Regions from separate parts of the Homo sapiens genome. Here all the other regions are reported to be linked to region 3. Evidence: microRNA targets listed by miRTarBase, many of them from high-throughput screens and not tested one by one. Region 3 holds a microRNA gene; each other region holds the end of a gene's coding sequence.
Evidence for each region. Region 3 holds the annotated microRNA hsa-miR-1343-3p (CUCCUGGGGCCCGCACUCUCGC, at 3,800-3,821, opposite strand). A microRNA usually pairs through its seed, bases 2 to 8, with sites in the 3' UTR of a target mRNA and lowers its output. Matches are read on the target gene's strand: a 7mer-m8 pairs with bases 2 to 8, a 7mer-A1 pairs with bases 2 to 7 and ends in A, and an 8mer does both.

Region 1: miRTarBase lists RRAGD as a target of hsa-miR-1343-3p. Seed matches in the 3' UTR shown: 7mer-A1 at 1,026-1,032.
Region 2: miRTarBase lists HMGN2 as a target of hsa-miR-1343-3p. Seed matches in the 3' UTR shown: 7mer-m8 at 5,628-5,634.
Region 4: miRTarBase lists UFM1 as a target of hsa-miR-1343-3p. Seed matches in the 3' UTR shown: 7mer-A1 at 5,005-5,011.

The regions. Positions count from the first base shown.
Region 1 is chr6:89,361,693-89,368,798 of GRCh38, reverse strand. RRAGD (Ras related GTP binding D) reads left to right here. Exons shown (of 7, transcript NM_021244.5): 7 at 592-4,183. The coding sequence ends at 743. Among named protein-coding and RNA genes, the nearest start is that of UBE2J1, 13 kb to the right of the region's middle. RefSeq lists an enhancer at 533-762.
Region 2 is chr1:26,473,913-26,481,038 of GRCh38, reverse strand. HMGN2 (high mobility group nucleosomal binding domain 2) reads right to left here. Exons shown (of 6, transcript NM_005517.4): 4 at 6,904-6,954; 5 at 6,372-6,467; 6 at 4,397-5,926. The coding sequence ends at 5,891. Among named protein-coding and RNA genes, the nearest start is that of HMGN2, 5.0 kb to the right of the region's middle. RefSeq lists a silencer at 1,895-2,095.
Region 3 is chr11:34,938,583-34,945,708 of GRCh38, reverse strand. It overlaps MIR1343 (microRNA 1343), which reads right to left and starts at 3,872; the gene lies at 3,789-3,872. All of the region lies in intron 2 of PDHX (pyruvate dehydrogenase complex component X), which reads right to left.
Region 4 is chr13:38,359,603-38,366,728 of GRCh38, reverse strand. UFM1 (ubiquitin fold modifier 1) reads right to left here. Exons shown (of 6, transcript NM_016617.4): 6 at 3,110-6,018. The coding sequence ends at 5,951. Among named protein-coding and RNA genes, the nearest start is that of UFM1, 13 kb to the right of the region's middle. RefSeq lists an enhancer at 2,097-2,605.

The DNA.
Region 1 (7,106 bases), not on the chromosome of region 3:
ACTTAAAATACTTAATACTGAAAAGCTGAGTGTCATTGGTTGTTGAATTTCTGCTGGAGTTGGCGAGATGACTGTTAACACTCTAAAATTAGGGGCTTCGCTTTCCCTCGGGCTTATGAGAATGGTTTAAATATAATAGATACTCAGTAAATATTTATTGATTGATACACAGCTTTGGGATCCCAAGTCAGGATCTGCCTCTACTCAGTCTAATAATGCCCTTTGGGGAGAAACATTTTTCATTACAGATTTCTCTTAATTGTAAGAAATCTTTAATTCTGAAAGGTTAAAAAAAAAGTTCAGTTCAGTCGTTCTTTAAATCTTTTGGGTCATAGGAACCTTTGAAAATATGGTCTATGCTCTGCAACCTTGCATCAGGAAAAATCTTCCTTCACAAGACTTTGCCTATAATTCCTAAAGATTTATAGCAATTTCTGAAGGCCAGCTGCAGACATCCCAGGGAAATCTCTGGTCCTTACGCTAAGACCATCCTCTACTGCCCCCTACTGGCTTGTCCTGGCCATGGGTCCCATGAAAAGATGGAGATTATTTCTACGTGACATTTATAAATATTTTTGTTCTCTTCTCCAGGGCTAATTGACTATAATTTTCATTGCTTCCGGAAGGCCATTCATGAAGTTTTTGAGGTGAGAATGAAAGTAGTAAAATCTCGAAAGGTTCAGAATCGGCTGCAGAAGAAAAAGAGAGCCACCCCTAATGGGACCCCTAGAGTGCTGCTGTAGGTGAGGTTTCAGGAATGTCTTTTGAAATCAGACCTTATCCATGAGGCTGCTGCGCCATGTTGCACTAAAGGAAGAGGAAGAAGGAGATTGGGACACATACCATTGATTTGTTGTTAAAAAAAAAAAATTCCTGCAACCCTCTTGATCTTCTCTTTTATAAATAAAGTAAGCACTTTGAAGCAAAAACTTGTATATTAACAGTGATGTGAAATCCATTGTCATTTCATTACACAAATGTAAACTTTTATGGTCTGTAGTCAAAAAAATCCCGTGTGAGAACTGCCAGGAATTGTACATATTTTGCACTTTTTCATGTTTCTCATTGAACTGAACTTTGATAAAACGACTTTTCTAAGCTTTTTTTCTGTACTTGGTGTCAAGGACATGCATACTGTAGTCCATATCTATATGGCAATCAGAAATTAATCAAAAAGTGATGCATTGGTAATGACTTTTTGTAAATTTGGAAATCTTTGCTACCAATTGTTGAGAAAAATCATTTTTCAGTGGAGCTGGAACAGATTGGAGCTACAAGCTCCAGGAGCAATAAGAACTGTCCCCTATTTATAATGGGTGTAAACAGTTTTGTAGAATAATGCTAGCACCAGACTTACCTAAAAATTTCTATAGCAGTGGCTGTGCTTCCCTGCTCAACGGTTTTTATGAAGCTGTTTACCTCAACACACATCTCTATAATCACTTTATACAGAGAGGTTATTTCTTTTTGTTGCATTAGTATTCTTTTGAAACTTTGGGACCAGATTTCCAAAATGGTGCCGAACACTGGAGAGAAGTAAGAATGTCACTGAATTGTAGGGTTTCTGGAGGCTTTTCTGTACCTACCACCCAGGGCTAAAGTAACATCAGAGGCCTAAAGTTGTTCCAAAAGTATGTGATTGGCAACTGCAGACTAAAAAACATAGATACAATTCTGGACTTTTGGCCCTGTGCGATGGTCTGGTGTGCTGCATTTAAAATGCTTATTCAGGACCAGTTCTTTATTGCTCCATGACCATAGTGAATAGAACAAATCGCAGAACCCCACCATGGAGCTCAATCCTGTTAGTCACTTTTGTCACCTCCACATCTCCTTCTCACTGGTGATAACATGCCTCATGTACTCCACTTGTTCCCACCTTATGATTAAGCCAAGCTCAGCCTGCCACCAGCATGCTCTGCAAGGCTGAAGAGTCATCCTGAAGACCCCTAAAGGTCAGTGGGAAAAGGATGGCTGGAGAGACATTACAATTAGCTGTGTAATTGTTTCTGTGAAATTATTTCACTTATGTTTACTTTAGACTAACAGGAAATTAAGAGTCCTAAATCTACCCCTATGCCAAATCATTCCAAGTAGATAATTTTACGTGCATCTCAAGGGTTAGCACCCTAAGGCATGCTTGTGGGGCATTAGAAAATGAGATTTTTTTTTTTTTAAAGCAGAGCCTCCTAAGAACATCAAAGTTGGTCCTAGCAAAATATATAAAGTCCCTAAAGCAACTTATACTTGAAACTTTTTTTTTTTTTTTTTTTAGAGGGGGGCCTCATTCTGTTGCTTGTGCTGGAATACATTGGTACAATCATAGCTCACTGTTACCTCTTGGGCTCAAGGGATCCTTCCACCTCAGCCTCCCTAGTAGCTAGAACTACAGGTGTGCACAACCACGCCCGGCTAATTCTTAAATTTTGTTTTTGTAGAGACAGGATCTCACTGTGTTGCCCAAGATGGTCTCAAACTCCTGGCCCCAAGCAATCCTCCTGCCTTGGCCTCCTCAAATGCTGAGATTACAGGCCTGAGCTACTGTGCCCAGCCTAAACTTTCCCACTTCTCTCTGTGGCTTCTTTCCAACCTCTCTCCTTCCTCTCCCCAAGTCCTGTTTCTTTGAAGCTGGTAACTGAATTTAAGATGATATCTGGTTGGTGTTTAAGGTTTGAGCCTCCCAAGGTTCTGTGCATTTTGAAAGGAGATTTCTAAAAATAATTAAGGTGCCCTAACTCCTTTCCTCATGATTCCTACTCCGAAACCTGGATGGTTAGGAGCCCAGGGCTCCCTGATTTCCAGAGCTATATCCTGTTGGACCTTTGCCAACAGACCTGACACTTAGGGGTTATTGTTATAAATCTAATTCTCTAATATTTTTTACATGTTGTTTCACTTTGAATAAGCAAATGAAGAATCAGTTTTCTAATATGACTTTATCCTCAAGCTAGAGACACTAGCCTATTTGGTAAATCACACATTACTTAGGTATATTTATTACTATAACCAGGTTGGAGCTTCCATGTTTAAGCTGGGTATATGATGGGTTTTTGTTAAAATGTGCCTTAAAAAGCCTATTACTTCAAGAGCAAATGATTCTTTGGGGGAAAGGCAAAAATAATTCTATGACATAGGGCCCAAGTTCATGGTAGTAAGTGTACTCTTTGATTAATCACACGCTAATATAGATTACTGCCTCTAACTTTGTAAGTGTGGCAATGACTTCTTAATTAAAGAAAGATGCAGGAGTTATGTCTAAGCGTTCAGTTTTTCAAATCTGTGTTATTGGAAATGTCTTCAAGTCATTTTGCATTGTATTTTTGATATGAGAGGCAGCTTATTGCGATGTGTATGGCCATGTTTCATTCTCAAATTTAATTCTATAAATACAAATCCTAAATACATGGCTACAGCAACTGCACTGGAACATTTTTGCTTGGTTTTAGGGATTGAGAACTTGCCTTGCAGGTTTCCTTCCTCAAAAGGAGCAGGGCAGTCCTTTCCCTGTTGAGTCAATTAGAATTTTTACATAGAGGTGAGACTGTGAATTATTTTGGTTATTTTCAGTGATGTAGATTAGTGTGAATGACCAGGGTGGAATGTTTTTGAAGGAATATAAAGCAAAAACTGGTTGACATTCACAAACTGTTCTTTTGTGAACATATTTTGGACCCTTAAATATGACTAAAATCACAGCAATATTGTTACATACGGGTTATATGCCAACTCTGTTTGAAATATACTCTGGAAAAACAGCTGAATTGTCTTGGTTATTAAAGTATGGTATGTATTCAACTTGTACAGACTGGATGTAATTTGTAATCAGGTATAGTCCATGTTTTACTTTAAGCAGTACATCACTTAATAACCATTGTTAAGCCATTGCTTTCAAGAATGTTAACTGCCAATTTAAAAGCATGTGTCCTAGGTTCATGCTTTGGTAAAGCTCTCATTTCAAGTGTATTCATAGCTAAGCTTTCTGGGAGCAGAATTGTCTCTTTGGTGAAAAGGAAGTACAGCCTTTCCTGTTTCTGAGGTTGCTTACCATACATGTATGTCACTGTTTCATTGGCCCTGTTACATCCATTTGGTAAAATTTATTTGTCCTGATTAACCAGCTCTCATTTTATGGAAATGATGATAAATCTCACTACTTAAATTTAATTTATGCTTTTATTTTTAAACTCTCTTACATCTCCACATTTTTGATGGGTACATGCCAGTTAGGGCTGTAGAACTGTTACTTCAGTAAACTTCAGATATTAACTCTTGCTGCTGTGGCCCTAATCCCCTAGTCATATGGAAATCCTTTTCCTAACAGTTTACCTTATCATTCTTAACTTTGCTTAGTAAGATTCCATCCTACAATGACCTTTTTCAGATCCCCTAGGAGTTCTCAGAGAGGGGCTAGCATTAGATGTTATATCTCAAATATGAAATCCTGTTCCTGGTTGGAAAACCTGATCTGAAATAATTATTTCCAAGATTTTCCATCAGTAGTGATGTTGAGCTTAAGAGAAAGAAAATTTTGTCTTCAACAGAAGTATTTAGTAATAACAGATACTGATTGAGTACACACAATATGCCGCAGGCACTGCTCTGAAGTACTTTTGCATAACTAAAATTCATAAATCCAAGAGGTAAGTACTGTTACCATTTCTATTTTTCAGATGAGGCAACCAAGGTCAAAAAGATGAAATAATAACTTGCTCAAGATCATATAGCTAGTAAGCCCACTTTCCCAACTACAACTATAAGCAGCTTCACCAAATGTTTTAAAAAAAATACCTTCCTTTCACAAATATGAAGAGGGGCACTTAGAGGATTTGTCTGGTGGACTAAGACTATGGGGTGTGCCATGCCATTTGAGGATGCAAAAGGAGGGCGGTATTCAGGAGAGTGTGTCAGAGCCCACCAGATACATTGGAGTTTATCCACCTAAACTACTAATTACTACATGGGCATGAATGCTGGCATATTGAGAAGTACCTATTCTTACATGAGCTCCCCTGGCATATTTATAGAACCAATAGGAGCAGTCTTCTAAATGTACTTCACCCAGAGAAGAAAGTCAAAGATCATGCATTTTTATTCCTAACCCATTAAATAACTCTAATGCTGAAGATGGTATTAAGTGTCTAAATATCTAAAGAAAATATAAATACCTTTTATAGCCATTTGGTTTTCTAATAGGCAATAGTATATTTCAAGCTCAGAAATCTAAGAATAAGCCTTTGGTCTTAACTGTATTCAACTTTTTACCTTGAGATTTCAATATATGTAAAAAAAATAAAATACTGATCTGGAATAAAATCCAAAAAGGTATATTTCCATCCTAATTCTTTTTTGACCTTCAGATCTATATCTTAAATTGCAACTAGCATGCTTTTGCTAGAATCTTCTATAGGTGAAAAGCCTCAAATCTAATATGTCTAAAATTGGCTTCCTTCTTGCTAAATCACCTATGATGGTGTGACTTTCCTCCCTGTGCTTCTGCCAGACACTTGGGCCTCATTCTTGACTCTTCCCTCCCCTCCTGTTCACCTGCAGTCAGTCACTCGGTTCTTTCAGCTCAGCCTTACAAAGGTCTATTGAATCTGTTCTCTCCATCTCCTCTGCCATTATCTTGGTTTAGACCACCATCTCCTTTTTACTTGGATTTCAGTATTTTTTTTTTTTTTTTGAGAGACAGTCTCATTATGTTGCCCATGCTGGAGTGCAGTGGCATGATCCCAGCATACCATAACCTCAAACTCCTAGGCCCAAGTGATTCTCCTGCTTCAGCCTCCCAAGTAGCTAGGACTACAGGTGTGCACCACCACACCTGGCTAATTTTTGTTTGTTTTTTTGTAGAGATGGAATGTCGCTATGTTGCCCAGGCTGGTCTCAAACTCCTGGGCTCAAGTGATCCTCCCATCTTGGGCTCCCAAAGTGCTTGGATTATAGACATGAGCAACTGCATCGGACCTTTCAGTAGCTATTTAACCAGTGTCTCTCTACCCCATTCATCCATCCATCCATCCATCCATCCATCCATCCATCCATCCATCCATCCATCCATCCTTCATACAGACCCCGAGTGGCCTCTCTCAACCACCACAATTCTGACCTTCCTTGCTTCCTGACCTTCTTAAGCTTCCTTGCTTAACACCCTCCAGGTCTGAAGCTCTCCATGACTCCTAGATATCAGCCCAAACTCCTTAGCAGAGTTCACAAGACCCTGCTCCCTGGCCTTGCTGCATCTCCGGACTTGGTTTATTCTCCCTCAATGTGTTGAGGACAAGCATGACCAAAAGAGTGTGGGGTAAATAAAAGGAGCCATGAGTTTTGATTCTTTTGTCAATAATGATTGCTAAATCTCCTATGATGGTGTGACTTTCTGAGGGAAATTAACAATGTTCTTTTATCCAACAGATATTTATAGGGTTCCAATTATATTCCAGACTCTGTGCTAGAGAAATGGCTAAAAGGCAGATACTGGAGATGAAAGGATTTTAATATCTAAAAATAATGAAAAATAAACTAATTTTTGATAGGTCCTTATAGATGTCAGTTTTTAGAACTGCAGTTGTGTAGGACTTTACCACTGTGCGCAGCAGAGACCATGGATAATAACTAGCATCCAAGAAATTGAGTTGTTCAACCAATAGATCAATAGCTATATTTACTATTAATTTAATGTAAGACTAAATAGAAGAAGTAGGCTGTAAATTCGAAATGTTTATTGACATGTAGTGCTTTTCCTTGTAATTAAGAGGTGAATTATCTTAAAAGTAGGAAGTTTTAAATGTTATTTTAATATTCATACTTTTCCAGCTTAATACATGTATGACATCAATATCACTTCCAGAATTGGATTTAATAAAAAGTTTATTTGGCCGGGCGCGGTGGCTCACATCTGTAATCCCAGCACTTTGGGAGGCTGAGGTGGGCGGACCATGAGGTCAGGAGTTCAAGACCATCCTGGCCAACATAGTGAAACCCTGTCTCTACTAAAAATACACAAAATTAGCCCAGTGTGGTGGTGTGCGCCTGTAATCCCAGCTACTCAGGAGGGTGAGGCGGGAGAATCGTGTGAGCCCAGGAGGCAGAGGTTGCAGTGAGCC
Region 2 (7,126 bases), not on the chromosome of region 3:
GAAAATAAAAGAAAAGAAAGAATAGAAAAGGTGGCTCATGCCTGTAATCCCAGCATTTTGGAAGGCCGAGGCAGGCGGATCACCTGAGGTCAGGAGTTCGAGACCAGCCTGGCCAATATGGTGAATCCCCGTCTCTACTAAAAATAGAAAAAAATTAGCCGGGCACAGTTGTGGTCATCTGTAATCCCGGCTACTCTGGAGGCTGAGACAGGGAGAACTGCTTGAACCCAGGAGGCAGAGGATGCAGTGAGCTGAGATCATGCCACTGCACTCCAGCCTGGGTGACAGAGCAAGACTCACTCTAAAAAAAAAAAAAAAAAGAAAGAAAAGTAAGAGAAAAGAACTCTTACACTTCAACAATAAAAACAACCCACAAAGAATACTTTCCTGAGAAGCATGTTAAACACACACACACACTCCCTAATTATAACTTGGCAAAGGATGTGAATAGACACTTCTTTAAAAAAAGATGCACAGGCTGGGCACAGTGGCTCACACCTGTAATCCCAGCACTTTGGGATACTGAGGTGGGCAGATCACCTGAGGTCAGGAGTTCAAGACCAGCCTGGTGGCCAACATGGTGAAACCCCTCTCTATAAAAATACAAAAATTAGCTGGGCATGATGTTGGGTGCGTGTAATCCCAGCTACTCAGGAGGCTGAGGCAGGAGAATCACTTGAACCCGGGAGGCGGAGGTTGCAGTGAGCTGAGATCGCGCCATTGCACTCCAGCCTGGGCGAGAGAGCAAGACTGTCTCAAAAAAAAAAAAAAAAAAAAAAAAAGCCAGTACGGTGGCTCCCACTCATGCCTGTAATCCTAGCACTTTGGGAGGCCAAGGCAGGCGGATCACAACGACAAGGTCAGGAGTTCCAGACCAGCCTGGCCAATATGGTGAAACCCTGTCTCTACTAAAAATACAAAAATTAGCCAGGTGTGGTGGCGGGCACCTGTAGTCCCAGCTACTCGGGAGGCTGAGGCAGGAGAATCACTTGAATCCAGGAGGCAGAGGTTGCAGTGACCAGAGATTGCACCACTGCACTCCAGCCTGGGAGACAGAGCAAGACTCTGTCTCAAAAAATAAAAAATAATAAATAAATAAATGAGGCCAGGCATGGTGGCTCACACTTGTAACCCCAGCACTTTGGGAGGCCAAGGTGGGCAGATCACCTGAGGTCAGGAATTTGAGGCCAGTCTGGCCAACATGATGAAACCCTGTCTCTACTAAAAATACAAACAATTAGCCGGGTGTGGTGGTGGGCACACGTAATCCCAGCTACTCGGGAGGCTGAGGCAGCAGAATCGCCCAGGAGGGGGAGGCTGCAGTGAGCTGAGATCACGCCACTGCACTCCAGCCTGGGTGACAAAAGCAATACTGTCTTAAAAAGAAAGAAAAGGCCGGGCAAGGTGGCTCACACCTGTAACCCCAGTACTTTGGGAGGCCAAGGCAGGTGATCACCTGAGGTCGGGAGTTCAAGACCAGCCTGACCAACATGGAGAAACCCCGTCTCTACTAAAAATACAAAAAATTAGCCATGCATGGTGGCACATGCCTGTAATCCCAGCTACTTGGGAGGCTGAGGCAGAATAATTGCTTGAACCTGGGAGGAGGAGGTTGCAGTGAGCCGAGATCATGTGACTGCACTCCAGCCTGGGCAACGAGAGCGAAGTTCCGTCTCAAAAAAAGAAAGAAAGAAAGAAAAAAGTACGAGTTACCATATGACCCAGCAATTTCATTCCTAGGTATGTGCCCAAATGAGCTAAAAACATATGCCTACAAAAACTTCTATATGATATTTGTAGCAGCATTATTCACAATAGTCCCAAAGTGGAAATCACCCAAATGTACATCAACTGATGAGTAAATAAAATGTGACTTATCCAATGTGATATATCCATACAATGGAATGTTATTTGGCAGTACAAGTTATCAAATACATATGATACGGATGAACCTTGAAAACATGCTAAGTGAAAGAAACCAGTCGTGAAAAAACACAGATTGATTCCATTTAGATGAAATATCCAGAAAAGGTCTAGAGAGACAGAAAGTAATTAGTGATTGTCTAGGGATGGGGGAGGAAGAAATGGGGAGTTAACTGCTAATGGGCATGGAGCTTTTTGGGGGTGATGAAAATATTCAGAGGCTGGGCAGGGTAGTTCATGCCTATAATCCCAGAACTTTGGGAGGCCAAGGTGGGCAGATCACTTGAGGTCAGGAGTTCAAGACTCTAGCCTGGGCAACATGGCAAAACCCTGTCTCTACCAAAAACACAAAAAATTAGCCAGGCATGGTGTGTGCCTGTAGTCCTAGCTATTTGGGAGGCTGAGGTGGGAGCTTGAGCCTGGGAGGTAGATGCTGCGGTGAGCAATAAGCTGAGATCATACCACTGCAATCCAGCCTGGGTGACACAGTGAGACACCCCCATCTCAAAAAAAAAAAAAATATATATATATATATATATATATATATATATATATATATACACATATATTTATATATATATACACATATATTTATATATATATACACATATATTTATATATATATATATACACACACACACACGTATATATTCCAGAATTAGATAGTGGCAATAGTTGCACAATGTTGTGAATGTACTAAAACCACTGTAGTATATGCTTTAAAATTGTGAATTTTGGCTGGGTGTGGTGGCCAGCACTTTGGTAGGCCAGGGTGGGAGGACTGCTTTGTGCCCAGGAGTTGAATACCAGGCTGGGCAACACAAGACTCCATCTCTTAAAATAATGATATAGTGGTGACTTTTTTTTTCCCCAAGAGCGTTAAGTATATTTATTTTTTAAATTTTATTATTATTATACTTTAAGTTTTAGGGTACATGTGCACAACGTGCAGGTTACATACGTATACATGTGCCATGTTGGTGTGCTGCACCCATTAACTCGTCATTTAGCATTACGTATATCTCCTAATGCTATCCCTCCCCCCAAAGTGGTGACTTTTAATGGTATATGATTATTTCTCAATTTAAAGAAGGGGAGGGGTAATTCTCAGCAGTGTTAACTGCTGCAATGAATCAGGCCAGGCCTGAAGAGACCGTGCAGCAGGCTGTCCACACAACAGCCATTTTCCTCTATCATCATCCCTCCTCTATTGAATTCCAACAATTCTGACTGGTCTAGGCAGATTCTGTGGTTTCATTCCTCTTGCTATGATTGGTTTAGGAGTGGAGAGGCAATCCAGATCTGCCCAGTGAAACACAGGCTGCTGGGGTGCTTGTAGGAAATATTTCATTCTTCTTAAATGCAGGGAAAAAAGGAGCAGTCCTCCAGCCTCTTGCCATTGGTATGGCAAATTACGATGTCTGGAGCAACTGCCTTGAAGGTGAGGTGGCTGGAGAACATGTTGAGGGCGGCAGAGCAGAAAGACAGGAAGCCCACCTGGGTCCTCACAACTGCCCGACCTCGGGACTTGTATCAGATGAATCCTCTAGTTTGTGCCATTTATGTTACTTTTTTTTTTTTTTTACTTAGAGCCCAAGCATCTGGTGACTTTTCCCGAGATCTTAAGAATGGGCCTGGAGACAGGGCTGGCACTGAGCATGCTACCATGGCTGTCTTAGTGAATGGTCCTTACCACGTTTTGATGTCTGGTTTGGTTTTAGGCCCAGCTACTTTCATGGTCCAGAGCCAGTCAAATCAGTATTTTCCAGGAAGGAAAAAAAGAAAAAAACTCGAAAAAGTTCAAGCTTACCCTACTCATCCTAATTATATGGCAACAAGAAGAGGGCCAGAAAATAAGTAAAAACAGACTATCAAGTTTAACCTCAGCCAGTCGCTTCACATCTGAGCCTCACTCTCGACTACAAAATGGGGCTACACCTGTATCTCATAGGTCTGACTCAAAGATTAAAGAGCATGAGGCAGAGCTGTTAGCATAGCCCAGGGCTTAGCAGACTTGCCACTAACAAAGAACCTCAGCTGTAACTTTCTCAAATTCTGCAACCTCTGCTCAAATACCAGCCCACTACCCCTGACCATTCTAAGATGTCTCTTAAGTTTCCTCTGGAAGAGGACACCGCTTTTAGAATAAAAATTACCCGTCTACAACCTAGAATGAATGACTTCAGCAATAATGAAAGTAAATGGCTGGTAACTGGCTAAATGGACAAATGGTATTTTATCCTGAATAAAAGTCTGTCAGAGATGACTTTTGTCTAGTTGAGGGTCTGAATCCTGACTCTGCTGCTCATTAAATGTACACATAACCTTCAACAAGTTTCATCTGTGCCTGATTCCTCATCCATGAGTGTGATACATATATTACACAAACATCTCAACACTTGAGAGATAATACACAAAAAACCTCAAGAACTTAACAGCGATACTTTTTTGACTAAGGGAATGGACAAAGCAATTAGTCTCCAATTTACTTTATTCCTGTCCAACAATACAGCCAGGTCTGTGAAAGCAAATTCAAGGTGCAAACATGAATTTGTTACCAGTTCCATATTCTAACAAATAACTTCTTGCCATTTCACTTAGAGAAACGTGGGGTTCTCTGCATCTCCAAACTAAAGGAATCAGGAAAGACCCCATTGTCTTTGTTTGCAGGTCTACTTAGGAGCAAAGTGTCATCTACCTTACAAATGGACAACTGTGTACACATTCACAGAGACACTCTCTGACATGAGTCTATTAATTTGCTAATTTTATAGAAGTTGCAAATGCAGATGGAAGTAGAGAGGCTCCTGTCAGCTACCCAGCCAAAACCGCAGATCTACCAAAAATCTGCATTTAATACACTTCATGTATTCGGAGTCATGCAAAAAACAAACACTGCAGGGAATGCTGCATAACCAAGTACAGAAATCACTCCATACTCCCAGCCTTTCACCATCAGCTAAGTCTACTCCTGGAATCCTTCCTAACTGCACCTAGCACTGTGTGTTTTGGAAGCTGACTATAAATCAGTGAAAGATCATCATTAGACTGTACATGGAGTACCTCAAAGCAGAACGTACCCTGTTCCAAGAGACTTGGATAAACCAGGTTACCCCACTTGTGGGAAAAGATCAGAGGCAGCATTCCAAGCCAAACTGTATCCAGCTTTATTAAAGATACTTTCCATAAACAATCATGGTATTTCAGGCAGGACATGGGCAGACAATCGTTAACAGTATACAACAACTTTCAAACTCCCTTCTTCAATGGACTACCAAAAATCAGAAAGCCACTATAAAACCCAATGAAGTCTTCATCTGATGCTCTGAACAGGGAAAGTTTAGAGTGAGGGTTGACATTTCACATTTAGCATGTTGTTTAACAACTTTTCACAAGCCGACCCTGACTTTCAGGAAGTGAAATGAAAATGGCAGAATTTATCTGAAGATCCACAATCTAGAAATGGAACCACTGCTCTTTTGACAGGTGCCATCTCAGTGGCATCACTGGAAAGTCCAGATTGCCTGACACACTGGTAACCAATGACTAGGGGTCAGGTCTCAACAGATGTCTGGGCTTAAGGGAGTTAAGTCTATGCTGAACGATGGAAAGGGAGAAGAGGACATAAAAACAAATTTGTTTTTCTATACCACAAGGCTTTTGTGCCAAGGTGGCCATGTGTGTCAAAGTCAGGGAATCCCTCCTCCTGGGAGCCAAGAGGAAGTCTCTCAAAACTAGAAGGGAAAGGTGTTTTCTCCACATCAATCCAGCTTTGGAGACATTCTATTAGTGACATATGCCCCTTCCCCCAAAAACAACAATGAAGTGTTCTGTGTGCTAACAACATAGCTTTTAAAAAAAAAAAAAAAGTAAAACAAAATTCTGCATTTTTATAAAACTTGATAAAAAATAGTATTTCAAACTGTACAGTCACCAGAAGTACACAGTTATCAAAAATGCACACACTTCACTTGGCATCTCCAGCACCTTCAGCTTTCTGTGCCTAAAAGAAAACAGACAAATTAATGCAATGCGTAGATTTCAAAACTATCTGTGTTCACATTCCACCTACAGCATCACTTTGCTCCCAGGCCAAAGTTCAGGTTTCAGGTACTGAGACTCAGTATTTCTTCTGAGAATGACTTACTAGGTAACTTTGCTAAGTCACCTCTCCTCTGGGCCTCACTGTAAAATTGAGGTAGGAAGAACACCAGAATAAGAGACCTGAGGTTACTCCTAGCTTGAAAACTTCATGTAGTATAAAACACAATGCCCTTCAGCTGACAGTAGAGATTTCAAGAATCCAGGATTTAAGTTAACAGGAAAGCCACAAGCACACTGGACCAAATGGTACATTTGGAGTGATACAAGAAAAGGGCAATTAAATTTTTGATATCAGCAACTAACTGAATGAACAAATCTAACAAAGGGTGAAACAGCAGTTATACCTGGTCTGTTTTGGCATCTCCATTTTCTGCAGGGTTATTCCCCTCCTTGCCAGCATCAGCTTTTCCCTTTTTCCCTTTGGGTACCTTCTCTCCCTTCTGAAAAAGGGGAAAAAATAGAACTGTTTCTCCCCATTTCGTATTACCAAGGTATGGTCTGCAAAGTTCTGCACAAGGTAGGATTGTTTACTCAAGATAAAACACAAACCCTCACCCATTTGACAAGAACAACTGATCAAAACTAGGCTAAATTATCTGTAATTTGCTATAATCTTTAGTACTTAGAATTTCCTAAGTAACAGAAGAATAAATTAGTTTAAACCCTGGGGTATTTAATATTTAAATGCAGATTTTCCTATAAACTAACAACAGAATTCTTGATCAGGAAACCAACGTTATGAATGACACGGACGAGGTAAGCTATCCACACAGTTTATAACCTCCATTAATGGAGGCACCATTATGCTAATTAAGTTAAGGCACTAAGGACAGTCCTCATTCTGTGAAAATGATCAGTTCCAATGTTAGCACTTACCTTTGCAGGGGCCTTTTTAGGCTTGGGCTCTGGCTTTGGAGGAGCAGGTTTCTTTTTTTGGCAGGAAGAGAGGAAAAAGTGAACATCAGTACAATGGACTGAAGAAAACCACCCACAACCAACCAAAAGTACCAAGGGTAGAGAAGTTTCTCCTCCTCCTCAAAAGTTTTTGTGGTTGGCTTTCTTCTAGAATGTTGGATTTCCAGAAGCCCACTCAAATGTC
Region 3 (7,126 bases):
CATGAATCCATATTAGATACAATGTAAAGAAACCGCATTCTATCAACGATAAAAACATAATCTTTTAAAAATCTATCAAAGGGGAAAAAAAACAGATTACCTCAATGGAAAGACTGAGAGTACACTTCTCAGCAGCTGCAACAGAGGTCAGAAAACAATGAAGTAATATCTTCAAAAAACTGAGGAAAAATAACTGTCTAGAATTTTGTATGCTGCCAAACCATCATTTGAGAATGAAAGAGAAGTATTCTTTAGATATATAAAGGCTAGGAAATTTTACCACCTATTAAAGATCTCTTTAAAAAGCTCTTACAAGATGCAGTTCATCAAGAAGAAAAGTGGAAGCAGATGGAACCCATGGGCTATAAGAAACAAGTTATTGTGAAAATTACTAAAATGTTAACTACTAGTATTTTTAAAGTAATGTTTGAGGGTTTAAAAAGTGTAAAACTCAAACTCTAAAAAATAATAAGATAGGTAAGGAAATGTTTAGATGGTAAGGCATGCTAACAACTTTGATATATTCAGCTGGTGCAAAAGTAATTTTATTTTTACCACCTTACTTTCAAAAACCCCAATTACTTTTGCATCAACTTATAATAGGAGAAAAATACTGAATAATACTAAACTTTATTGGCAAAATTTAATTTAAAATTTAAAAACAGAAATATAATCTACAGCATTAGAAAAACAGAGGAAAAATAAGAAGTTGATTATCTAACTGAGGGCAGGCACATGGAAAGAAAAGGCAAAGGATAAAAACAAAAATGCACAAAAAATGGTAGAAATAAGTCCCCATGTATCCGTAATCACAATAAATATAAATGGATTAAAATCACCCATTAAAAGTAGAGATTATCAAAATGGATATGAAAATAAAATCTAGGTAAATGTAGCTTACAAGAGATAGCCCTAACACAAAAACAGAATAAAAAACAAGGGGATAAAAAATATGTAACATATAAATACACCTCCTCACACACCAAAAATAGCTGGAATAGCAATATTAACAGGCAAGCATCATAAGAGAATATGAAAGAAAATCTAAAACACTAAATTAACAAATATGCTCTGAACGTTCACAGTACAGAAAGTACTTCATTGTGTACCAAGATGATCAAATTGATAGTTATATCTTCAGGTTAAATAGTTCAGAGACACTAATATAAGTTATTTTTAAAAATAAATTGATATGTTAGATGATATTTATTTACCACCTAAAAGGTCCTTTGTCTAACTCCAAAGAGATGTCCCTAGTCAACAAACATTTATTAAAAATGTATTGGGGTGGCCAGGCGTGTAGGCTCACACCTGTAATCCCATCACTTTGGGAGGCCGAGGTGGGTGGATCACCTGAGGCCAGGGGTTCAAGACCAGCCTGGCCAACATTGTGAAACCCCGTCCCTACTAAAAATACAAAAATTAGCCAGGAGAGGTGGCAGGCACCTGTGGTCCCAGCTACTCGGGAGGTTGAGGCAGAAGAATCACTTGAACCTGGGAGAAGGGGGTTGCAGTGAGTCAAGATCATGCCATTTCACTCCAGCCTGGGCAACAAGAGCAAAAACTCTGTCTAAAAAATAATAATAATTATATAAATATATTTTATATATATATACACACACACACACATATTTGTATTATATATTTATATATTACATATAAAATATATATACATATGTAGGCACTGAGGATACAGCAGTGGACAGTAATAACAGCAAAGATTTAAGATTCCTGACCTCAAGAAGCTTGCTTAATATCCATTGACAAGTAAACTGGAAAATACAGCAGGATAAGGTGAGGTCAGGATGCTTTGGGAATGTTCAGGAGGGGCATCTAATTCAGTTTTTGTAAGGTGAGAAAAGGCTTCCTAGAATACAATGACCACCTATTCTGAGCCTGAAGAGGTGAGGAGGAGACAATCTGTAAACAGGCAGTGATCCAGGTAGAAGGTAATACACTTATAGCCCTGGAGGCAGAGAGAACAGGAAACTTCAGAGAAACTGGCAAATAGTATGCGAGAGAAGTGACGAGAGATTAGGCTGGTAAGATATGCAGGAAGAGACCAAAAATGACCTTTGTATGTCATAGAGAAAGCTACAGTGTCAGATTATATCATCTTACATACTTCTTTAAATGTTTTAGTGGTTAAAACAGATTGCACTTCAAAAGGGAAAAAAAGCACACCCTCAAAGATTTCTGCTATAATCACGGGAAAAACTATAGAACTAGTAAACCCAGCAATTAAATACCTCTTAGATGCCTAGAAAACAGACTCTAGCCACAGAAAAACAAAATGATGCTATATCATCATTTGTGTTCATCAGTATTCAAATTCCAACCACACTTTAAGAACTACAGATTCGACTTCAGCTATATAACTTTCTCTGAGTAACTTGACCTACATAATTTTGTTCATATTCCAGATTCCTATAGTAGGTCTAATTTATTTAAAAATCACAAATTGCATATAAAATGTTATATTACTGCTAATTACTTTTTTAAATTGTGATTTCCTCTATTTACTAGACTATGAGCTTCTTCACAATACGGACAGGACACTTAAATGTTTTATATTCCCATCCCCATTCCTCAGGTTTCATGGCCAATGCACCATACCCAATGAATTTTAGATTAAAATGCTTTAGAAAAAAACATGATAACTTCACGAATCCTTATTTCCTCATAAGGTATACATCAAATTATCTTTTACATTTCTTTTGCTTCTAACATTTGATTTGTAGCATGCTTCTGATATTTAAAAAGATAGCCTTTTTTTCTTTTTTAAAAAACTATATCTATTCACATAACACAGACATATATGTTAGCTAGATGAGAATGCCAAGGGAGAGGGTAGAAGAGAAAAGCAGGAGGAGAGAGAAGGAAAAAAGGAGAGGACAAAAGAGAGGGAGGTAGGGAAAAGAAACACAGAACACTTTACCAATAAATCACAGGGAAGTTTTAAAAACATAGTAATATTACGTATGGAAGCATTACCCCTAACTCATCACAAAACCAAAGTTCTATCTTTCAATAATCAAACATCATGTAAATGCCAAAAGAAAACTCTGAGAGCAAATAATGAGCCATGAATATTTCAAATCTACTGAGTTTCAGCTGTGATCAAAAATTTAGTGCTATAACTTAGAAAGACTCCTTGGCAGAGTAGTTACAAGGAACCTCTCCTAATTCAAATATGAGTTTGATTCCAAGCTCTGACAGTTACTAGTGATCTTGACCAAGTTACTTAATCTCTCTGACTCTCAGGAAAATTTTAAATGTATAGATATATATTTTTTAAGTCATGGGGCTGGAAGTGTTAATGCTTCACATACATCTTTATGTAACACTTTACAACATCTCTAGGTAAAAATAAAATGTTAGCTATACAACCATTTTGAATCAAGACACATTTATTCCATATTCTGTCATGTCTACCTGAATCAAGATACGGTTTTTTTCCATATTCTGTCATTTCTACCAGAATCAGGACACATTTATTCCATATTCTGTCATTTCTACCAGATCATCCAACAAACATTAATGTATAAGGCACTGTACTAAGCACTGGGTATGAAAACAACAAAAAGAGAAGGTTCTGTCCACAAAGAGTTTAAAGTGGAGAAGAGTGGAAAAGACTCAGCAGCTAGGATAGAGGGTCCTGGACAGCGTGAGATGACAGATGGCTTCTCAGCTGTCAGGTTCATAGCTGACTGATTGAAGAAAGAGATGGCAGCCCTGGAGTGTTCCTGCACCATCTTCTCGTGGTCCATGGCAGTGGCGGAAGAGGAGCGGGCCCAGAGCGAGAGTGCGGGCCCCAGGAGGGGCCAGAGCAGAGGCCCACCCGGGGGCCGCTCCCCAGCACCGACGCCAGCATCATCGTCCTGTTCCTTTGTCCGATGGGCAGCTGCCAGAGCTGAGGACTGAAGTATACGGAGGCTTCCCTTTCTCTTTTTAAATTCTAGATATTAAGCATAGCCTTGGTCAAACACAGTTAATGGTGATGTTTATTTTATTAATAGAATAAGTCCTGAGGCTTTCACAAAATAATTTTGTTCTGCCAAAAATTAAGAATAAAAGTCTTTACGTAAAAGATGTGTGTGGTGGTGGTGGTGGAAGAGAGCTAGTTTTTATCTGTAAGACCAAGTTATCAGATTAACATGAACATTAAAGAAAAATTCCTCTTCTTAGTGCTATGTTGAACCATAATGATAACAATAATCAGAAACAAAAATAATTCAATTGTTGACTCTACAAGTATTTACTAGCTGCCCATGTGAATGACACTGTGTGCGACACTATGATAAAAATAGTAATAAAATAAGACAGAACTGCTTCAAGAAGTTCCTAATCTGATTGAAGAACAGTACAACAAGCAGGCAATGACAATCCCATCCAATTAGTACCTACAGCAGAATGGGAATGTAGAGGAGGGACCCCTAGTCAGTGTTTGTCATCCCTTTTCACTTCACACACACACAAAGAAGGATAATATTTGCATGGCCAAAGACCTGAGGCAACCTGGTTGCTAGGCCAGTTGAGGTCCTGCCCTATGGGGTGAAGGCATGAGTAGGAGAGTTTGAGAAGGGCCCAGTTAGACAAGGTCAACCACCCACACATCCCTCTGGCTTCTTAAAGTCTAGTAGCTACTGTATTCGACAGTTTAACACAGAACATTTCCATCACCACAGAAACTTCTATTGAATAAAACTATAATCTATAATTCCATTCACTAATTTAAAAATTCTGATATAATACAAAGATTTAGCAATAAATGTAAAAACGCATAATGATGGAATATAATTTAGTAACAAAAGGAATGAACAGCTGATAAATGCTACAACATGGATGAACCTTAATCATGCTAAATCTGAAAAAATCTAGTCACAAAAGACCAAACATTACATGCTTCTATTTATATGAAACATAGACAAAAGGCAAAACTTTAGAGACAAAAAACAGATCCGGATTGTCTAGGGATAGAGATGGGAGGAAAAAAATGACTGCAATCAGGCAGCAGGGATCTTTTTTGGGGTGACAGAAATGTGTTCTAAAACTGGATTGTGGTGATGGCTGCACAACTCCATATATTTATTAAAAATCATTGAATACTTAAAATAGGTAAATGTTATGGTATGTAAATTATACCTCAATAAAGCTGTGAAAACCATAGTACACCAAAAAAAGGAAGCTATTTGTGAAATGGACTTTTCAAAATTTTCCATTTTAGCACCACAAACATATACATATTGCCAGAAATAACGGAACCAAAGTGTCTTCTATAGTAGAATCCAGAGACCCATATAACTCTCTAGTGGCATCTAGTGATATAGGATAAGGCTTTCTTCAAAATGGTTTTATTTCTGAATTTTATACAGTAACAGTATATTAGACAAAAACTATTTGAAATACAAAAAAATCCCTTGTCTCATGACATAAGGAATACCGCAGCAACAAGCACCACTGTTAAGCATGCTTACTACGTACATTCTAGGCACTGTGGGTGTGGCTAAGTGCTTGATGGAATTATCTTAGCCTGGTTTTGTTCCATAGTGCTTCACGGCAGAGCAGAAAAATCTCAAATATTCTGAGGAAAAAAAACAAGGTTTTTCATAACCTCAAATATTCTCTTACAAAAGGAGAACAAGAATTTTTTTTCCTTTCTGTTATTTTAACAGATTTGACAGTTCAATTGATGAAAAAATAAACTAGGTGCAGTTTAAACTGAAAATATCTGAAGCACATGCCCCCTCCAAATAAAAAACTTGTAATAAAAATGCCAAATGATAGCTCAATTGACCTTTCAAAAGATTTTGAAATTGTGGGTGTTACCTAGCACTTTCAGAGCATTTTCTGTACTAATTTTATGATATATAAGGTTTTAGTCAATCCTCAGACTGAAATGAAGTACTCTAATAGTCATTATAAAACTTATTTTCTTAGAATCATGAGTTCAACAAAGACGGAAATAATTTATATGCTATAATACTGCATATTTCAGTTACTTAAAAAAAGAAAATAAAAATGAGTTATCATAGAATTATAAATCCAGGATATTCCGTACCTTAGATTTCAGCTAGTTCAACTCACTCCCAGGTAGTTCATGGCAGAGGAGGAACCCCAAAGGAAAAACCATGATTCCTGGGCCAGAGTTTTTTCTTTGCACCCTTACCTCCTTGGTGTAAAACGCTGCGCGCATGCAAGTGCACACACACACACACACACACACACACACACACACACCATTAGTAAAAGAAGCTGTGAATCAGTCTCAGATCTTTGAAAAAACTTAATGGTTTTTAAGACTGAACTGCTGTCCATTGAATGTTCTCAAATACTTATCTAGTCTTCGCTTAGAAGTAAACTAGATTCATAATTCGATGCAACACTATCATTTTTCATGAAAAATATCAATTTTCTTAATGCATAAAGGTTTAAACTCATTGTTTTATGGTGACCATACATTTAAAAAGATCTCAAAAATCAAACAAACAAAAAACAGTTAATAAGAGAAAAAATATATGAAAAGTATGCTGTCAGAATATAAATTTGTTTTTAATATAAAATGAATGGAGCAAGTTATCATAAATGTACCAAGAACCAGGCATACTTAAACATATATTGACACCCATGTATACAGTAAATAAGTGTTAATGAAAAGCAGCCAATTATACTCAAAAGATCACAAATCACAAAGGTGATGAGCTTCAAAAAGAAGCCAGTGAACCACTAAGAACCAAGGATTAAGATTGCTCTCAATTATTTACTGTGTTTTGGCAAAAACAAATTTCCCTTCAGTTGGCAGAACACAGAATTTTAAGAGCAACCTTCAGGGAAACATGCTCCAGGGACTTAAAATACATCCTGGCCTGTCCTACATGAAAATAGCATATTGTAATCAAAAGGAAAAAAGAACAGAATAATGAGACCATATGTCTGCTGGCTCTTTATCTTACTGCTCATATTCTAACGGGTGTGAATAACTTATTAGATTGCCAGTGAGCTGGAAGTCTGAAAGATAAATGTGGCCCAAGAATCCCCTCATCTGCTTACCTATAAATTCTCAAAGTGTGAAGAAAGTTAATCTTTTTAAAATAATCCCTAAAAGACTGTTCTGTGTCTGAATCAT
Region 4 (7,126 bases), not on the chromosome of region 3:
TACAGACCTAGGAGTCAATCTCACCGTAACCTTAAACATATTAACTGAAGTCTCAGCTTCCTGAACAGTAAAGTGAAGAAATTAACACTGGCATTTGTGAAGGGATTAAGGATTAAATGAGTCAATGTCTGTAAAGTGCCTCACACTGTGCCCAGCATATAAAAAGGGATTCGTTACACATCTTCATGTCCATGATTACTAGACCAGGTAATTTTGGTGTTTTTGAAATGTATAAATTTGGGAAAGTCCAAGAAATGGGAATGAATGGATGTTAATCATGTTTCGTCTCCAGTATTTAACAATATGCAGCATATAGCTAATAATGTTTGTTTAAAAATAAGAGAATGTTTTACAATTAAAAAAAGTAGTTAATTTAAGTAAATTTCTGCTACAAGAAACAGTGGGCAACATGGGTATACCGGTTAACCAAATAATCTGGTGAAAAGCAGTTACTTTATGTATGAGACACAGTTCTAATTTTCAAAATATTCTTTTATGTAGTTTTTCAATTATAAAGTACTTTTTGTTTATGGGCAAAGCGATTTGGAAACCTAGTTTCAGTCATGGTCTTAGACTTTTATAAAATTTATATTTTAGAGACAAGTAATTCTGTATTTAGTAATTGCTAGAATGGAGGAATATACAAAATGTAAAATTGCTTAGACAGTTAATACCTACTGCTTTGGAGGAGGGAGGAAAGGCTCAATGGCTTTTGATCTTAAAGAATAAATCCTAGGTTTTCCAGGCAGACAAATGGGGTAAGTAAAGAAATGAAAGCATAAGAACATGGCACATCACAGATAACTAAACATTATTTGTGGTTCAGTGTAGCTGCGGTGTAAATTAGGGAAGGAAACTGTAAGGAAGAGAGTAGTAGTAGCAGATGACTCTAACACAGACCAGTTCATGAAGGGCCTCGTATGTCACAGACAGTGTAGATTTTTTATTCAGTAGGATTTTGATTAATGAAATGGCATAAAAAAACTCATTACAGCAAGTGTGAAAGAGGAAATGAAGAGACTAGAGGCTCTTAGTATAAACGAGAAGATGAGGGCTTTTGTTACAGTGGGGATGGCTGAGATATTCTGTTAACAACATCAAGAGAATTTTGTGATTGTCTTGATACATCAAGAAAGGAAAATCAGGAGTAACAGATTTGACGGTAAGAGAACCTTAGTCAATTTGAAGGATATGGTTAATAGGTTGGATAGATTGAACTTTTCAAGAGTATTTATTTCAATTAATGGTTTAATGGCCTAGTTTGAGTAATGATTTACCCATCACCAGCACTAACCAATAGAGGGCACTTCCAGAATTTCTGTATTAAAGAAGTTTATGGGCAGCAATCTAGTAGAAAAAGTGGGCTATTAGGAGACTAACCTTGCAGCTTCACTTGCAAAATACACTAAAATTAAAAAACACAATGTCTGATAGGCTAATGAATATGGCGGCATAGTCCCTACTCCCACTACTGGTTGGTTTATAATTAATATCCTAGAATTTTATCATATTTATACCATATATACACCACGTATTAAAAAAGTAAGGCCATTCATTATCATTACACACAGTCAGTACTCTGACATGGAATTTAAGCCTTACATATTTTCTTACTTTTAATCTGCGATTCAATACGCATCTAGTATATCACAGAAAATATATACTAAAAATTTCTCCGTATAATGTGCAGAGTTTGGGTCAAATCATGGGTTTAAATTTCAAATCTCAACTTAAGCCTCTTTCTTTTTCTATAAAAGGGGAAAATAACCTGGAATTGTTATAAAGAATGGGTAAATAAAAATGAAATTATCCGTCAAAATATTTGACACACAGTAGATGTTCAACAGATTTCTTTAGGATGAATTACATATATAAATCATTATTTTTTGTGTGGTTTTATAAATGGCCTCAGGAACACTATCAGTTAACTTAGAATCACTCCATTAAAGTATAACAATGCTTCCAATTCAGGAATACTTCAAGGTCCTCGCGTAAAAAACATCTTTTTACGCGAAGATATTAAGTTTTAATATCTTAATATTGGAGTAGAGGAATTAAATAGGATTGCATTTTCTTCCCACTAACGTTTCTTTTGAACAGCTAGTTCTAAGAAAAACTTATCTAAAGAATGTTTGACTTGAAAAACTTTTTTTTTAAAATTTTTTTAGTATTTATTGATCATTCTTGGGTGTTTCTCGGGAGAGGGGGATTTGGCAGGGTCATAGGACAATAGTGGAGGGAAGGTCAGCAGATAAACATGTGAACAAAGGTCTCTGGTTTTCCTAGGCAGAGGGCTCTGCCGCCTTTCGCAGTGTTTGTGTCCCTGGGTACTTGAGATTAGGGAGTGGTGATGACTCTTAACGAGTATGCTGCTTCCAAGCATCTGTTTAACAAAGCACATCTTGCACCGCCCTTAATCCATTTAACCCTTAGTGGACACAGCACATGTTTCAGAGAGCAGGGGGTTGGGGGTAAGGTTATAGATTAACAGCATCCCAAGGCAGAAGAATTTTTCTTAGTACAGAACAAAATGGAGTCTCCTATGTCTACTTCTTTCTACACATAGTAACAATCTGATCTCTCTTTCTTTTCCCCACATTTCCCCCTTTTCTATTCGACAATACCGCCATCGTCATCATGGCCCGTTCTCAATGAGCTGTTGGGTACACCTCCCAGACGGGGTGGCGGCCGGGCAGAGGGGCTCCTCACTTCCCAGACTGGGCGGCCGGGCAGAGGCGCCCCCCACCTCCCAGACGGGGCAGCGGCCGGGCGGGGGCTGCCCCCCACCTCCCAGACGGGGCGGCTGGCCGGGCGGGGGCTGCCCCCCACCTCCCGGAGAAAAACTTCAAAGGTTGTGCAGTGAGTGAGACTGTTAGCTAGCACCTTCACCTCAGGCTACTTACCAAGCATTGGAAAGTGCACTGTCCAAGATTCCAGAACATATTCTACTTACTTTGACCCCTTAGACCTCATTCTGTTCTTCTACAAAGTGAAAAGGTGGCCTTCTCATTAATTCTCAAACCACCTGCATGGCAGAAATCACCAGAACTCCTGTTTACAGAGGATCTTTATATATTATTACAGATGTAATAAATCAGAATTCAAGGAGTGGTTTCCAAAAATCTGTATTTTTAATTTCCTAGGCGACTCTGTTATCACCCAGGTTTGGAACCTACCAACCTAGCCAGTTACAATAACCCCATTTTCTTCTCAACTTTTTTTTTTTTTTTTTCCGTCTGTAAAATGGACAGGCATTTGCAAGTACTGTTATGTATCACTGAATCACAGGAACAAATTCTGAGAAATGCTTCCTTAGGCAATTTTGTCACTATGTGAACATCAGAATGTACTTGTACAAACCTAGTTGATGTCACCTACTACAAACTTAGGCTATTTGGTATGGCCTATTGCTCCTAGGCTACAAACCTGTAGAGCATGTTACTGTACCTAATACTGTAAACAACTGTAAAATGATGGTAAGTACTTGTGTATCCAAACATAGATAAAGCACAGTAAAAATATAGTAATATGGGACCACGGTCATATATGCGGTCTGTTGTTGGACGAAACATCACTACTATGTCTGTGGCAGATGACTATAAACTAATTTCTCTGACTTATGGTCATTAATCATCTTTGCCCTTTTTTTCTTTACTACATGTATTATATACTGACTCAAAAGGTGTGCTGATTAAGAGCTCTAATAATAAGAACAGACAATATGGTTTACAATATAACAACATGTATTTTCATTAGATATTAATTATAAACCAATAACGCATGTAAACTGAATACAATACTTCAAATCATTCTGCACAAAGAAATTACAGATCACATTTTTTTAATAACAAAATGTCTACTTGTTTAATAAAATGTTTTTAGGAACTTACAATGTTCAAAACCAAAGAATAAAAATATTAAATATATCACTTTATGGCACAGGACAACATAAATTTATTTTTGTAACACAGCAGGCAAATTTTTGTGCTAGAAACAGGATGGAGAAAAATCTAAATTAAAGCAAAAAGTCAGGAAATGGGTGTTCATAAATTCCTGCTTAACTAAGACTCAACATTTATTGTAAGAAACGGGGCCTCTGAACATCAGATTTTGTTTATAAAAATAAAAACTTCCTCCCTGTCTCTGCTAAAAATACAAAAATTAGCTGGGCGTGGTGGTGCATGCCTGTAGTCCCAGCTACTCGTGAGGCTGAGGCAGGAGAAGCCTGGCGACAGAGAGTCTGCCTCAAAAAAAAAAAAACAAAACAAATAAATAAAAATAAAAACTTCCTCAAACATCAGATTTTTTCACCTCAGCAAATACTTTTTCCTTTGATAATTCATAATCCTGCTGTTCATTTGTCACATTTATGAATATCTGGTAATTTCATAAACAACTACCAATGGTACACTTCAAATGCTGATTCTGTTGAATCTTCTTATTTTTTTTCCCCCAATGAACTTAGGGCCTATGATAGAGAAGATACTGAAACATGCTAAGATAATAATTGGTCTTAGAAAGACTTTACAGCAAGTATTTAATGAAAGCCACTACATTTCCAGCTCTAAAAAGAGCCAGACACAATCCCTGCTTCCAGAGTTCACCATTCAGAATACAGGAGGTCAAGCACTGATTCTGAATCATTAATGGGCTTTGATTTCGTCTTTCAAGATTTGCATAGATACTGATTTCTTCCGGAAGGGCAAATAAAATCTTCCCTTACACACATCATTCTTTGGATTCTCATAAGGGGTATTTTGAAGTCTGTATGTTGACAAGGCCAGTAGATACTTTGTTTTCTCTAACTGCCTTCTTCTACTTAAGACTATGTCAAGTATTTTGTTTTCCCTTTCAGTTCTCCCCAACATACACCTTCTGCAGTTTTGTCTATCCAGTCCGCTTTTCTGTAACACTTTGCTACCCCCTTCTGTTCCCCTTCACTGTTTCCTCTGTTGCTTTCCTCCTTAATAGAAGCCTGGTGATCTGGGCTTCCCCATCTTTCCTTTCCTGGCTTCTTATTCACATGGGTGACTGATCTTAGCACTTCCTTAAAAGTTGGGTTTTCAATAAATATAACTCATCAGCACTTCCGATCTGTATTTCCTTGAGCTTTTTTTTGATCTTCAGATCTGTGCAATAATACTCTGTTCCTGAATGCTATTTAGAAATACTATCCTCAAAACACCAGTGGTTTCTTGAAGCTACTTGTTTTAAATGTTGTATCAAAAGAGATTGATAAAGGAATGTATAACTCAGCAAAGGATGCTTCTACTGTAAATTCCCACCATTAAAAGTACTGGATTCTATAGGTCCACCATTAAAAGCTGGTATGGGACACCAATTTATACACATAAGGGTTAGATTAAAATTTTAATTTTTTGGTTGATATTAAACTGAAATTTATATAACTGAGGTCTGAATCTTAAAAAAAGTAAATGATAAAAATTTAATATAGTTAACTGTTCACTGATATGTCTATTCACTTCATCACAACCTATATATTTAATTAAAAATCAAATTATGAGTCTGCAAATCAGATGCTATCAAGCAAATTGCCATCCAGGGTCCATAATTCTTTTTATATTTTTATCTCAGATGAATATATACGATTCAGTAAATTTTAATGTTCCAAATTGTTCTAAAAAAAAAAATTATCAAAAGCTTCCAGTTAACAGTTGGCTAATTCATTTGCCCCCAACGAACTACCTGTTTGTGTTGTGAGGTAGCATCAAAGACTATGATCTTCTGTGACAGTAGTAGCCTTAATTCATACGCATTCCCTCTTCATAGGAAGAGTATGGACAACAAAAAGGGACAGATGAGTCACCTTTCATTAATCATTGACTCCTGGTGTTTTCATAGTATGTTAAATGCCTGATTTCAATTTTACAACAACAAAAAATACCAATATTTATTCTGAAAGGCAATCGTATGTTCCAAGTAGCAGATATTAACAACTTCCAACACGATCTCTAGGAATAATCCGCAGTTCTGAACCATGTTTTAGAAAAACATTTCCTATACAAACAAACAAAACATAAAGTTAGATATCTAAAAATCAAGTTATCTTAATATTCTGACAATTATTAAATATAATAAATGATTTAGTAAACAGTAAAATGGGTACAAAAGCTCAAGCATCATGAGACCCCAATTCCAAGCTTTTTAAGTCTTGTTCCTATTCTCCTATCTTCACAATCCAACATACGCTTAAAATTTAAAATAACACCAGCCATGAAAACTCTGACGAATACTTTCATCAAGTAACTGTGAATAATTTAATCATGAATACTTCCTTCAATACACAATAATATATCTAAGGACAGGAAAAAAAATGTAAATTACTACAAGTGACAAAAATTTAGATACCCTGACATATTTGGGGTCAATTGCCTGATGAGATTTTCTTCATATCAAGGATATGCACATTCAATTTTTAAAGATAATAAAACAAGCAGTATGTTAGAGTTAGCAGTAATTCAAACTACTGTAAAATATTGAAAGTTTCTCGATTAAGAAAAAAAGAAACCTTTGTCTACTAAGTTTAAAGGCATCCATACAATAAAGTGCCTCACGATTTTCAATAAACCTTTTTAATAAAATTATATATTAACAACTACTGAAGTAACAAAAATTTGCAATTTTAAATCACTTCATTTTCTTTATGGCTGAATTTCAACTGCAAGGCCTGTGAAAACAACATAATTTTGTTACAATAAAGAAATACTTTAGAATATAATTTAAAAATAACTACTGCTCTAGAATGAGGTTACATTAAAGCATGCCTAATTTTAAAACTTTAGATTATAAGCCTAAGAGATTACATTTTAAAAATATAAAACTAATTTTAAAAAAGTTTTAGACTTCTTTTTATAAAGTATGAGACTACTTTTACCCTGTCTCCTGGTCAGGACACCAATATATCACCTGTATAAATTTAACAGTTTGAAGATCTGAATGTAGACTCAGCCCCTTGAAATGTAAATGACTATATTTAAAAAAAATAATAGCACTTAATGAATGCTTTCTATAAATAATCCAAGCTATGAAGCACTTTACAGTCACTATCTCACAACTACCTTAAGAGGTAGGTCAAAAAATACTCCAATTAGAAAGCAATCTTATC